Homo sapiens: one gene and its partners. The protein of the gene in region 1 purifies or fractionates together with the protein of each later gene. This does not show direct contact. Each region holds a gene or a part of one and is shown in the gene's direction. Other genes may lie near its edges.

Evidence for each region.
Region 2: the proteins of NME8 (region 1) and IFT57 purify together in Homo sapiens (affinity purification with mass spectrometry, with the first as the bait; one large-scale study listed by BioGRID). This does not show direct contact.
Region 3: the proteins of NME8 (region 1) and TRAF3IP1 purify together in Homo sapiens (affinity purification with mass spectrometry, with the first as the bait; one large-scale study listed by BioGRID). This does not show direct contact.

What each region holds. Positions count from the first base shown.
Region 1 is NC_000007.14:37,851,535-37,855,189, forward strand, and holds part of NME8 (thioredoxin domain-containing protein 3), read left to right. Parts: intron 1-3,655. UniProt on the Homo sapiens protein: Probably required during the final stages of sperm tail maturation in the testis and/or epididymis, where extensive disulfide bonding of fibrous sheath (FS) proteins occurs.
Region 2 is NC_000003.12:108,163,318-108,166,972, reverse strand, and holds part of IFT57 (intraflagellar transport protein 57 homolog), read left to right. Parts: coding exon 1-119; intron 120-1,479; coding exon 1,480-1,542; intron 1,543-3,243; coding exon 3,244-3,310; intron 3,311-3,655. UniProt on the Homo sapiens protein: Required for the formation of cilia. Plays an indirect role in sonic hedgehog signaling, cilia being required for all activity of the hedgehog pathway.
Region 3 is NC_000002.12:238,396,960-238,400,614, forward strand, and holds part of TRAF3IP1 (TRAF3-interacting protein 1), read left to right. Parts: intron 1-499; coding exon 500-720; intron 721-1,794; coding exon 1,795-1,960; 3' UTR 1,961-3,655.

The sequences.
Region 1 (3,655 bases):
TTTTAAAAATTTAATATGGAAAAAGAAAGTGAAATATGCCATCAATAATTTTATACATTGATTACATGTTGAAATGATAATATTTTGGATGTATCGGGTTAAGTAAAATTTATTATCACATTATTTTCACCTTTTTTTGTTTTTAAATGTCCCTACTGGAGAATTTATATGTGTGGCTTATATAATATATTTATATTATATAGAAAAGCTCCCAAACCAACTAGACTTAAGATACAGGAGCAGATAACAGATGATAACAGATCTTTACTCCTTATCTCTGAAATACATAGTTCCTAATGCAGACATGCAACCACAACCCACTCATGTTCTCCCAGTTACAGGTCTTTCATGGCCCCTTTCAACCCAAACATTGGAATGGGTTTGCCTACTGACCTTGTATTTCACTATCCATCCCCTTCTTTAAATGCATTTTCCATAGGACTTATTTTCCTTAGTTCAAGATGATGAATAAGCAGTTTAAAGCCTAGACACTCACCTCTTATTATTTTTCTATTCAAGAGAGTAAGTGGCTGTCTACAGTAGTTAAATCCTGTTGTCCTGGTGAAGGAATTGACTTTTTTTTTTTGTCTTCTGAAATAAGGACTTTGTAAGGTTTTCATTCCTTTAATTTTTTAAAAAATGTCTTTATATAGATGTTATTTTTAGAGCAGTTTTAGGCTCATAGCAAAATTTACCAGGAAGTAAAGAGTTCTCATATATCCCCTATCCCCACACTCTCATAGCCTTTTCCACCATCAAAATCCCACATCAGAGTGGTACATTGTTACAACGGATTAGCCTACACTGGCACATCATTATTTACCAAAAGCCGTAGTTTACATTAAAGTTCATTCTCGGTGTTGTACATTTTAGGGAGTTTAACAAATGTGTAATGACATGTACTTACTATATTATGGCATCATATAGTATAGTTTCATTCCCAGCAAAATCCTCTGTAATCTGTTCATCTCTCCCTACCTCATAACCTCTGGCAACCACCAATCTTTTGACTACCTCCATAGTTTTCCCTTTTCCAGAATGTCATATAGTTAGAATCACATAGTGTGGAGCCTTTTCAGATTGGCTTCTTTTACTTAGTGATATGCGCCATGTCTTTTAATGATTTGATAGCTCATTTCTTTTTAGTGTCAAATAATACTTCATTATCTGGATATACCAGGGTTTATTTATCCATTCACCTGCTGAAGAACATCTTGGTTGCTTCCAACTTTTAGCAGTTAGGAAAAGGCTGCTATAAGCATCCATGCTTAGGTTTTTGTATGAACATACTACACTTTCAACTCATTTGGGTAAATACCAAGGAGTAAGATTGCTGGATCATGTGGTAATGATATGTTTTATTTTGTAAGAAACCACCAAATCTTCCTAAGCAGCTGTACCATTTTGCATTCTTACCAACAATGAATGAGAGTTTCTGTTGGTCCACATTCTCACCAGCATCTGTTCTCTGGATTTTGGTCATCCTAATAAGTGTGTAGTGGAATCACTTTGTAGTTTTAGTTTGCGTTTCCCAAGATTATGTGAGGTGGAGCATCTTTATATATACTTATTTGCCATCTGTATATCTTCTTTGAGGAGGTGTCTGCTAAGGATTTTGGCTTATTTTTTTAATTGGGTTGTTTGTTCTCTTATTGTTGAGTTTCAAGTATTCTGTGTATTTTGAATAACAGTCTTTTATCAGGTATTACTTTTGCAAATAGTTTATCCCAGTCTGTGGCTGGTTTTTTCATTCTCTTGTCATTGTAGTTTTTTTAAAGACGAGATTCTGTAACAACCTGTTTCACTCTGGAGAATCACAACCACCAGAAAGGAGCTAGGAAATTATTCTAGACTTGATTCTTCACAGAGAAGAAAAATCAAGTTAGAAGACCAGAGAATAGAGCCTAAAGGAGATTGCCACATGCAGTTGGAAAGGGGTTGATAGAAGTTAAAATACAGTATCACAAGTGTCTAACAGCTGACAGATGGATCACAGGGAATTGAGGATCAGGAAATTCTTGTGAATCCTGGCAGTTGGCATTAGGAAAGTGGCAGTAGACGTTCACATAGACTAGGGGTTCCAGATTCTGGTGACCTGCCCATAAAGGTGAAAGAAAATTATATCTCCAAACCTCCATTGTGAGCAGCAATGGAGGGATGCCCTCTGCCGGACATATTGTTTTCTGCTGTTAATCAAGGAAGAACTTGAACATGTAGGTCCAAAATTAAAATGTATGAGGTTATTTCCTATTAAAATTGCCCTGAGCTGAATGGTCAGTATACAATTTTTTTCTGCTGTGTGCCTTTTTAAAAGAGGAACATTAAATATTTTATATATATAGAGAGAGGCATATAAAAATTTAGTTAATAGTGTTTATTATAGTTACTGTTATATTATTATTAAATTATTTAATCCTTAATAATTTATGTATTATAATATAAACATTATAATTATAATACCTGAATTACTTCTAAATAGAGTTGACCCTTACCAATGCTGGAGTTAGGGGTGCTAACCCCCCACGTAGTAAAAAATTCATATATGACTTTTGACTCCACCAAAAGCTTAACTACTAATAACCTACTGTTGACTGGAAACCTTATGGGTAACATAAACAGTCGATTGATACATATTCTGTATGTTATGTGTATTATATACTATATTCTTGCAATAAAGTAAGCTAGAGGAAAGAAAATAGTATTAAGAAAATTATAAGGAAAACAAAATATATTTACTATGCATTAAGTGGAAGTGGATTACCATAAAATTCTTCATCCTCATCATCTTAACATTGAGTAGGTTGAGGAGGAGACGAAGGAAGAGGAGTTGGTATTGACGTCTCAGGGGTGGCAGAAGCAGAAGAGGTGGAGGAAGTGGAAGGGGAGGCAGGAGAAGCAGGCATAGTGGATGTAATTTTATGGAAATACGTGGTAATTTCTGTCTGACGTTTTTGCTTTTTCATTGCTCTAAAAATGTTTCTATGTGGTACCAATCCTTCTTCCACCATTTGCTTTGGTTTCAGTGCCCATATCATAGAAGGGTCCATGTCATAAATGAAGTCAAAAGCAGTCTTGAATAACTGGAATTCTTCTGCCAGATGTTCTAATGTCAGTTTGTTTTCTGGCACTGGCTCTTCTACATCTTCTCCCTCATCGTCTGGCACTGCTTTAGAGGCACTCATCTCTACCAATTTGTCTTCTGTTAATTCCTCTGGTGTGGTGTCTCTCAGCTCTTGGATTTCTCCAACATCCATATCTTGAAACCTTTCACCCCCCACCTTTTTGCCACATACACAATCTCTTTTATGACTTCCTTAATTGGCTCTGTCATAAATCCCATGAAGTCATGCACAACATCTGGACACAATTTTCTCCAGCAGGAATTTATTAATTTGTGCTTGATAGCTTTTGCAGCTTTTTCTATAACAATGATGGCATCTTCAATGGTGCAATTCTCCCAGACTTTAATGATGTTCTATCAGGGTTCTCTTCCATAGCACTGACATTTTTTCCATAGAGTACCACGTGTAATGAGCCTTCCAGGTCCTTATGAGCCCCTGATCTAGAGGCTGAATTATAGATGTTGTGTTTGGAGACAAGTAGATCATTTTGAGACCTTTGATGTCGACCTCATGGGATTCTCAGTGACCAGGGG
Region 2 (3,655 bases), on another chromosome or scaffold:
AACTCCATAATGAAATTACTAGGACTTTGGAAAAGATCAGCAGCCGAGAAAAGTACATCAACAATCAGCTTGAGAATTTGGTTCAAGAATATCGTGCAGCTCAAGCCCAGCTGAGTGAGGTAATTTAAGAATGATTTCCAAGGATTTATTCAAGTTAACAACCCTAAACCCTAAACTTGACACAATACTGTTCATTTGAGAATCATGAAATGCTTTTCATGAACAGCAAAACATCAATTTTCTGCCCACTTTAGGAAGCCAAGAGAGCCGAGTGAACTTATTTCCATTTCACATGTAATAGAAGTTGTTTTCTCCTGGAAGTCTTTAAATGCACGTCTTCATTTGATTTAAGTAAATGAAGGCATATGCTGTTGGGGGAACATAGCTTAGAACAGGAACAGAGTATCAGGACACCTGGTTTTGCTTCTATAAGTCTGTTGTTAATTTACCATTGGCGTAGGAGGAAGAAGAATAGTATGCATTTACATGTGTCAAAGGAAAAAGACAGTCCTTGCCATTCTGGCTTACAACCACATAATAAGGAATGTGAAAGCAAGATACATTCAGAGACAAGCAGTTTAATTAATAAAATGAGACAAATTTTTCATTCTTTCAAAGTTTTAGAATTTTAACCAAAAAATAAAATCACTAGACTTTGAAAGCACCAGTTCTTTGTCCCAGCAGTAGGGATCTAAAAGCTTTCCTTTGGGATTTGTGCCCCCTATTTTCTGATGTTAAAGAAGGCTAGTAAGGACAGTTGCAAACATCAGTTGAAGGCATATTTTTTGTCTTCAGCAGACAAAGTTGAGAAAGAGAAAAAAGTAGAAGTAAATTTGAGATACTTCTATACTTTCAGAAGTCCTCAAAGACTAAATAGAAATCTACACTTTTTGATGTTATTTGTTAAATGTATTATTCCTTCATATACACAATTACTTATGAATATTTTAACTATCAAAATGATGTAAAACTCTCTGATCAAAGCCACCATGTATTTGTCTAATATTAATATTATATAATTGATTGTTAGTTTCTGACATACTCCAGTTGAGTGTACTGTCTTACGGGATGTTAATCCTTATTCATCATTGAGCTTCATGCTCTACTTTGATTGATTTTTGGTTTTAGAACGGACTTTCTCTGCGGAGCATGCAAATTAGATTGACCAAGAGCCCCTCTCCTAAACTGTTTAGGAATGACCAAGGACAGTTTTTATTGTGAACCATGCCCATGCGAGGTACACAGTCAGTTTGTGAAGGTTAAGGTAGTTCATCATTTTGTAGTACTTAGTTAAATACATGCTGCCTATTAGGGACATAAAACAGCTACAGTTAAATGTCACTTTCACAAATGTATTCACAAACAAGGAGCAGGGTTGTCATAAAATGACCTGCAGAAATTGCAAACACAAAGAGGTCAGTCGTATTTAATCTGCTGCTGCTTTGAATTTGCCATTAAACAAAATGTTTTTCCTCTCAGGCAAAGGAGCGATACCAGCAGGGAAATGGAGGAGTGACGGAAAGAACCAGACTCCTCTCTGAGGTACACACTGATGCTCTTGCCCTGCTTCTCACCTGTCAGCTGGGCCCCAGCCATTGAGAACCTACAAATGGTTTAACACTGCTAATTTCAGTTGCTTCCTGTGCCTTTAAATCATTTTCTTTAGGAGATAATCCCTAATTTTCCTATGACTGAATCAATAATTGATACATTTCTTGTTTCCACAGGATGCCTGAAGTTTCTGTATTAAATTCAACATAAAACCTGCTCATAATATTAGCACACTTATAATTTTCCTCAACATTTTTTACATAATAATTATTATTAACATGGGGATGAATAGTAAAGCACTGACTTAAGGAATCTATAACAAATTTTAACGTTAGTCTGCAAGATATAAGGTTTATTTTTAGTGACTGTTATTGATAATTTGTGTGTGATCCTGGGTGTATTTCTCTGTCCACAATTGGGAGTGGCTTATAACCTCCTCCTTTAGAATATTTGCATAAAAATAAATAGTTGCATTTATTTTTATGATCTTGCAAGAGAGGTAGGACCTGATATATATTCCCATTTTTCACTGAAGAGCCAAAGGAGGAAAAAACCTTGAAAAAAGGTCAGTAGTTTATTTGGGACTAAAATCCAAGATGATCTTTGGTTACAATCCAGTATAATTGGAACAAACTTTACTGTTTTGACAGGAAAGAATTAAACCTCTTTTATAGAGATTATTTGAGGAATAAAGTTATTTTAAAACACTAAAAATATAACATCAGAAATATTTAGACTGTAATCCTGTGGTGCTTCTAAGCAAATAAAACAGTATGTAGAAGTAAAGTGTTCACTTATGTTAGGTAAATTAACACTTGAAGGGAGTCCAGGGAACCATTTACTTCTTTTGGAGTAGATAGTTATCCCCAGTTGTAACATTTCAGATGCCTGAAAAAATTAATTTGCTTTACTTGGATGAGCACTTTATTCCCAGGGAAAGTTTTACTCACCAGTATGATAAAAATAAAGCCTACTAAGTCACAATAATTATAGCTTAGTTGTAGATCATGTAAAAAATTTTCAATTTCTTAAAGATAGTATTTTCTACTTATATTAATGCTGGTTTGGAATTTTGCTAATAATAGAGGTTATAGTAGTATAATCGCCAGATAGAGTGCAGATAGGAACAAGTGTGACAGCAAAGTATGCCTCCTTGGAGTTCGGAGTTCATGATTTGGATAAAGCAATAAGAATATTCTTATATATAGCCATATGATATAAACATTTTTTAGTGTCCTATAGAGGAAAAAGTGACATAATGTCTTATAGAACTATAATATTAAGAAAGATACCCAGAAAAGCTTTAGAAATCTAAAATCTCTTCAGGATGTTTATACTATTTTAATTAATAACCAGTTATTAGAGAATTTCAAAGTATATGCGATGAGATAATTGCGAGGTTTGAGTGTCTAGTGACTAAAACAACTTTGATTGTGTTTAGTATATTGCAACATGAGAAAACAGATGTGACAGCCATTTGGTGAAGTTTAACATTAGGAGCATTCTGAAAAACTGAAAAGCTTTGTATATCTGCATACTTTATATTATTTGAATTATGTCCAAAATATTCCTAATATCTTTATTTTTCTATATGTGTGGCTAATATCTAAATTACATTTTCTTAACACATAATTCAAAAATTGTGAAAGTTTATTAAAATGTAATGCTCATGAAAACTTGTTTTCATGAAAGGTTATGGAAGAATTAGAAAAGGTAAAACAAGAAATGGAAGAAAAGGGCAGCAGCATGACTGATGGTGGTAAGTACATGCTCATTTTAGGGGAAAAACTGAGCAAGAGAAAAATAGCTCTTCAAGAAACCTACTTAACAAAATAGTATTAATATATAAAACAAATTATTTGTTGCTTGTTTGAAGAGAGATTCATTGTACAAAAATGTCTGATAATCAGCGTACTGTTTTTCTTATAAATCAGCTGAGAAGGGTAGGCTTTTTAACTATAATTTAGAGGTTTTTAACATTCAAACTATTGATTCAAAGAGTGGGAAATATTTAAATATGTACTTTGTTATGCCAGTTTAAAAAATAATATTGTGTTCTGTTTTCATCAAATGAGCTTCACTTTTTCTATTTTATATACAAAAG
Region 3 (3,655 bases), on another chromosome or scaffold:
CCTCTCCTTTGGGTTTCTTTCCCCTTGCCCCCTGGCAAGCTGGGTTTTGAAGTCATTTGGGATGGAAGGTGGGCCATTTGAAGAGCTGTAGGGTCAGGCCCTCATTCTGCCAGTCCATTTGGGAAAAATCTTCCATGTCACTAAGCTCTTGTAACAATAGCTACAAAAGTTGCTTGTTAGTTGGGAACTGAAATCTGCCTGTATAGAGATTTGCCCTCAGATGGATTTCCAGGTAAAGACAGACCCCCATCCCCATTGAGCAGGGAAGGAGCGGCCCCTCCCTGGCAGTGCTGTGTCCTCTGATGGCGTGCAGCACTTCAGAGTTACTCTGTTAGGCAGCATGGCTCTCCCTTTGCATGGGAGTGAGTGTCCCACAACCAGCACTGTCTCTGCCTGCGCCTTTCCTCCCAGCCCCATGGCCGTGTGCTGAGTGCACCGGCCCTGTTCTGCCTTTGGACTGAGGAGGCGTGTTCCTCTTCCTATGTCTCCCTGACTGTAGGAGCGATCTCTCTTTGAGTCGGCATGGAAGAAGGAGAAGGACATCGTTTCCAAGGAGATAGAGAAGCTCCGCACGTCCATCCAGACCCTGTGCAAGAGCGCACTTCCCCTGGGGAAGATCATGGACTACATCCAGGAAGACGTGGATGCCATGCAGAATGAGCTGCAGATGTGGCACAGCGAGAACAGGCAGCACGCCGAGGCCCTGCAGCAGGAGCAGAGGTGGGGGGTAGTAATGGGGAGGGGGCCCTGCAGCAGGAGCAGAGGTGGGGGGTAGTAATGGGGAGGGGGCCCTGCAGCAGGAGCAGAGGTGGGGGGTAGTAATGGGGAGGGGGCCCTGCAGCAGGAGCAGAGGTGAGGGGTAGTAATGGGGAGGGGGCCCTGCAGCAGGAGCAGAGGTGAGGGGTAGTAATGGGGAGGGGGCCCTGCAGCAGGAGCAGAGGTGGGGTGTAGTAATGGGGAGGGGGCCCTGCAGCAGGAGCTGAGGTGGGGTGTAGTAATGGGGAGGGGGCCCTGCAGCAGGAGCAGAGGTGAGGGGAAGTAATGGGGAGGGGGCCCTGCAGCAGGAGCAGAGGTGAGGGGAAGTAATGGGGAGGGGGGCCTGCAGCAGGAGCAGAGGTGAGGGGAAGTAATGGGGAGGGGGCCCTGCAGCAGGAGCAGAGGTGAGGGGAAGATAATGGGGAGGGGCCCTGCAGCAGGAGAGAGGTGGGGGGGAGCAGGGGGATAATGGGAGGAGGCCTGCAGCAGGAGCAGAGGTTAAGGGTAGCAGAGGCAGGGAGTAATGGGGAGGGGGCCCTGCAGCAGGAGCACAGGTAGGGGATAGCGGAGTGGGGGGAGTAATGGGGGAGGAGGCCCTGCAGCAGGAACAGGTTGGGGTGGGGCAGGAGGGTAATGGGGAGGGGGCCCTGCAGCAGGAGCAGAGGTAGGGGTGTAGCGGAGTGGGGCAGTAATGGGGAAGAGGCCCTGCGGCAGGAACATAGGTGGGGGGTAGTGGAGGGGGGATCCCCAAAGTCAATGGGGACTTTGCTGCATACCTCCTTGTCCCAGAGGTTGTTCTGTATGTAATTTAAGGACTTCAAGATTATCATTGAAGAAATATTAACTGCTGCTTTTATAAATCTCATGTTTGACTTCACTTTTGGTTGTAGCAGGGGTTGTGAAAATAAGAAATAAATATTATCCTTTTCTTTGGATGAAACGAATAATTTACTTCTGTTGTCTTTCAATGTCTTAATTAAGAAGCCAACACACAATGAGATGAGAGAGTGATGAGCCGCTGGTTTTGTTCTCCCTCAGGATCACAGACTGTGCCGTGGAGCCCTTAAAGGCTGAGCTCGCGGAGCTGGAGCAGCTGATCAAAGACCAGCAAGACAAGATCTGTGCTGTGAAGGCCAACATCCTCAAGAATGAAGAAAAAATCCAGAAAATGGTATATAGTATCAATTTGACTTCGAGAAGGTGAACACTCAAAAGTTTCAGAGATGAAAAGTCACCTCAGTTTAAAAGCAAAAAGGAAGATAGAAAATCATTACTCTTTTAAGTTCCAGTTTGCTAAGAAAATGAACAGTTTACAATGTTATTATCCAGCTAATTTTCAGAGCTTTAAAACTGTAAGCATGTTAAGTGTATTAAAAAAACCATGTTTTCTTACCTCCTTCCAGATGGAATACTGGCTAGTTATAAATAGCGCTTCCAAACACCTCTGTGAAAAGTTTTTTTGAAAGCCTGTTCTTTGTGTTTCTGCTGTAACCTGTTTAGTTCTGTACCAGAACTCTCTAGCAGGTAAGTGGTGTGGGCATACCAAGGGAACAGTAGTCCTTTATTTTGGTTTAGTGGAAAGACTTTCAGAGGTCAGTGCCGAATGAAGGATGACTGTGTACTTTTTGATAGGCACTTGATAAGTAGAATGAGGCCTGAAAATGAATACATTATATTTTTAGTTAATTTCCAATGGAAAGGGCTAACCTCAGCCTGTCTCCATATCAGGTACCTATCAACTGGATTGTTTTCATTTTTGTTTTTTGACCTCTTTGTAATTGCATGTACTTCTCTATGTAATTTTCCTCTTGATCTCTACTATCGTTTGCTTGTGTTTCTAGTCCTTAAAGTTCATAAATTTAAAAAGGAGATTTCAGGATGGCCTTTATGGACGTTGTCTGGACATACATCCTCACTTTCTTCCGCAGTTTACCCTGGTTTTCCTCAGACAGAGGCTAGCGCAGCCCCCCGGAGTCCTTGTTCTCCTTAAGAGGGTCTCGCTCTGCAAAGCATTGGCGCCATGGCTTTTCCTTTGCATGGGTGTGCATACCGAGAGACAGGCAGCTTAGGAAAAACAACATAAGGAAGACTTAAAAGGATGCACTGATTTACGACGTTTTTTGATGTTAGCCATTTTTTTGGAAATTGTTTTTTAAAGCAAAAGTTTTTTAAAAACATGGTTTATAGTTTTTCACTTACATATACTATTGTAAATACTTAGCAGAGTCTTAAGTTACTGTATAAAACATTTCATTGTGTTTGAAGACATACTTATGGGTCTTGAGGTCTGGGTCCTAATACTTTTAAATAGTGTATTTATTATGTAAACTGAGGAGTGCCATTTAAAGTGTGAGGATTGCCTGAAAAGGTTTTGTTTCTTTCTTTTTTTTTTTTTTTTGAGATGGAGTCTTACTCTGTCGCCCAGGCTGGAGTGCAGTGGCGCAATCTCGGCTCACTGCAACCACCGCCTCCCGAGTTCAAGTGATTCTCCTGCCTCAGCCTCCTGAGTAACTGGGACTACAGGCGCACGCCACCATGCCCAGCTAATTTTTGTATTTTCAGTAGAGATGGGGTTTCACCGTGTTGACCAGGATGGTCTCCACCTCCTGACCTCGTGATCCGCCTGCCTCGGCCTCCCAAAGTGCTGGGATTACAGGCATGAGCCACTGCACCCGGCCAGGTTTTGTTTCTTTAAGGATTAGCACAAATGGCACCGTTGGGTTTTTCTTCATACAATTTCCAAAATAAATTCTGTACTCAGGTTGTTATATGATTTTCTGAGCTGAATAAGTTCAGGAGCAGATTATTAAGATCTGCCATTCTGAAACGCTGGTCTTTTTCTCCTTCCTATAGTGCACCATAAAATTCTGTTTGATCAGATTATATTACATACATTTTG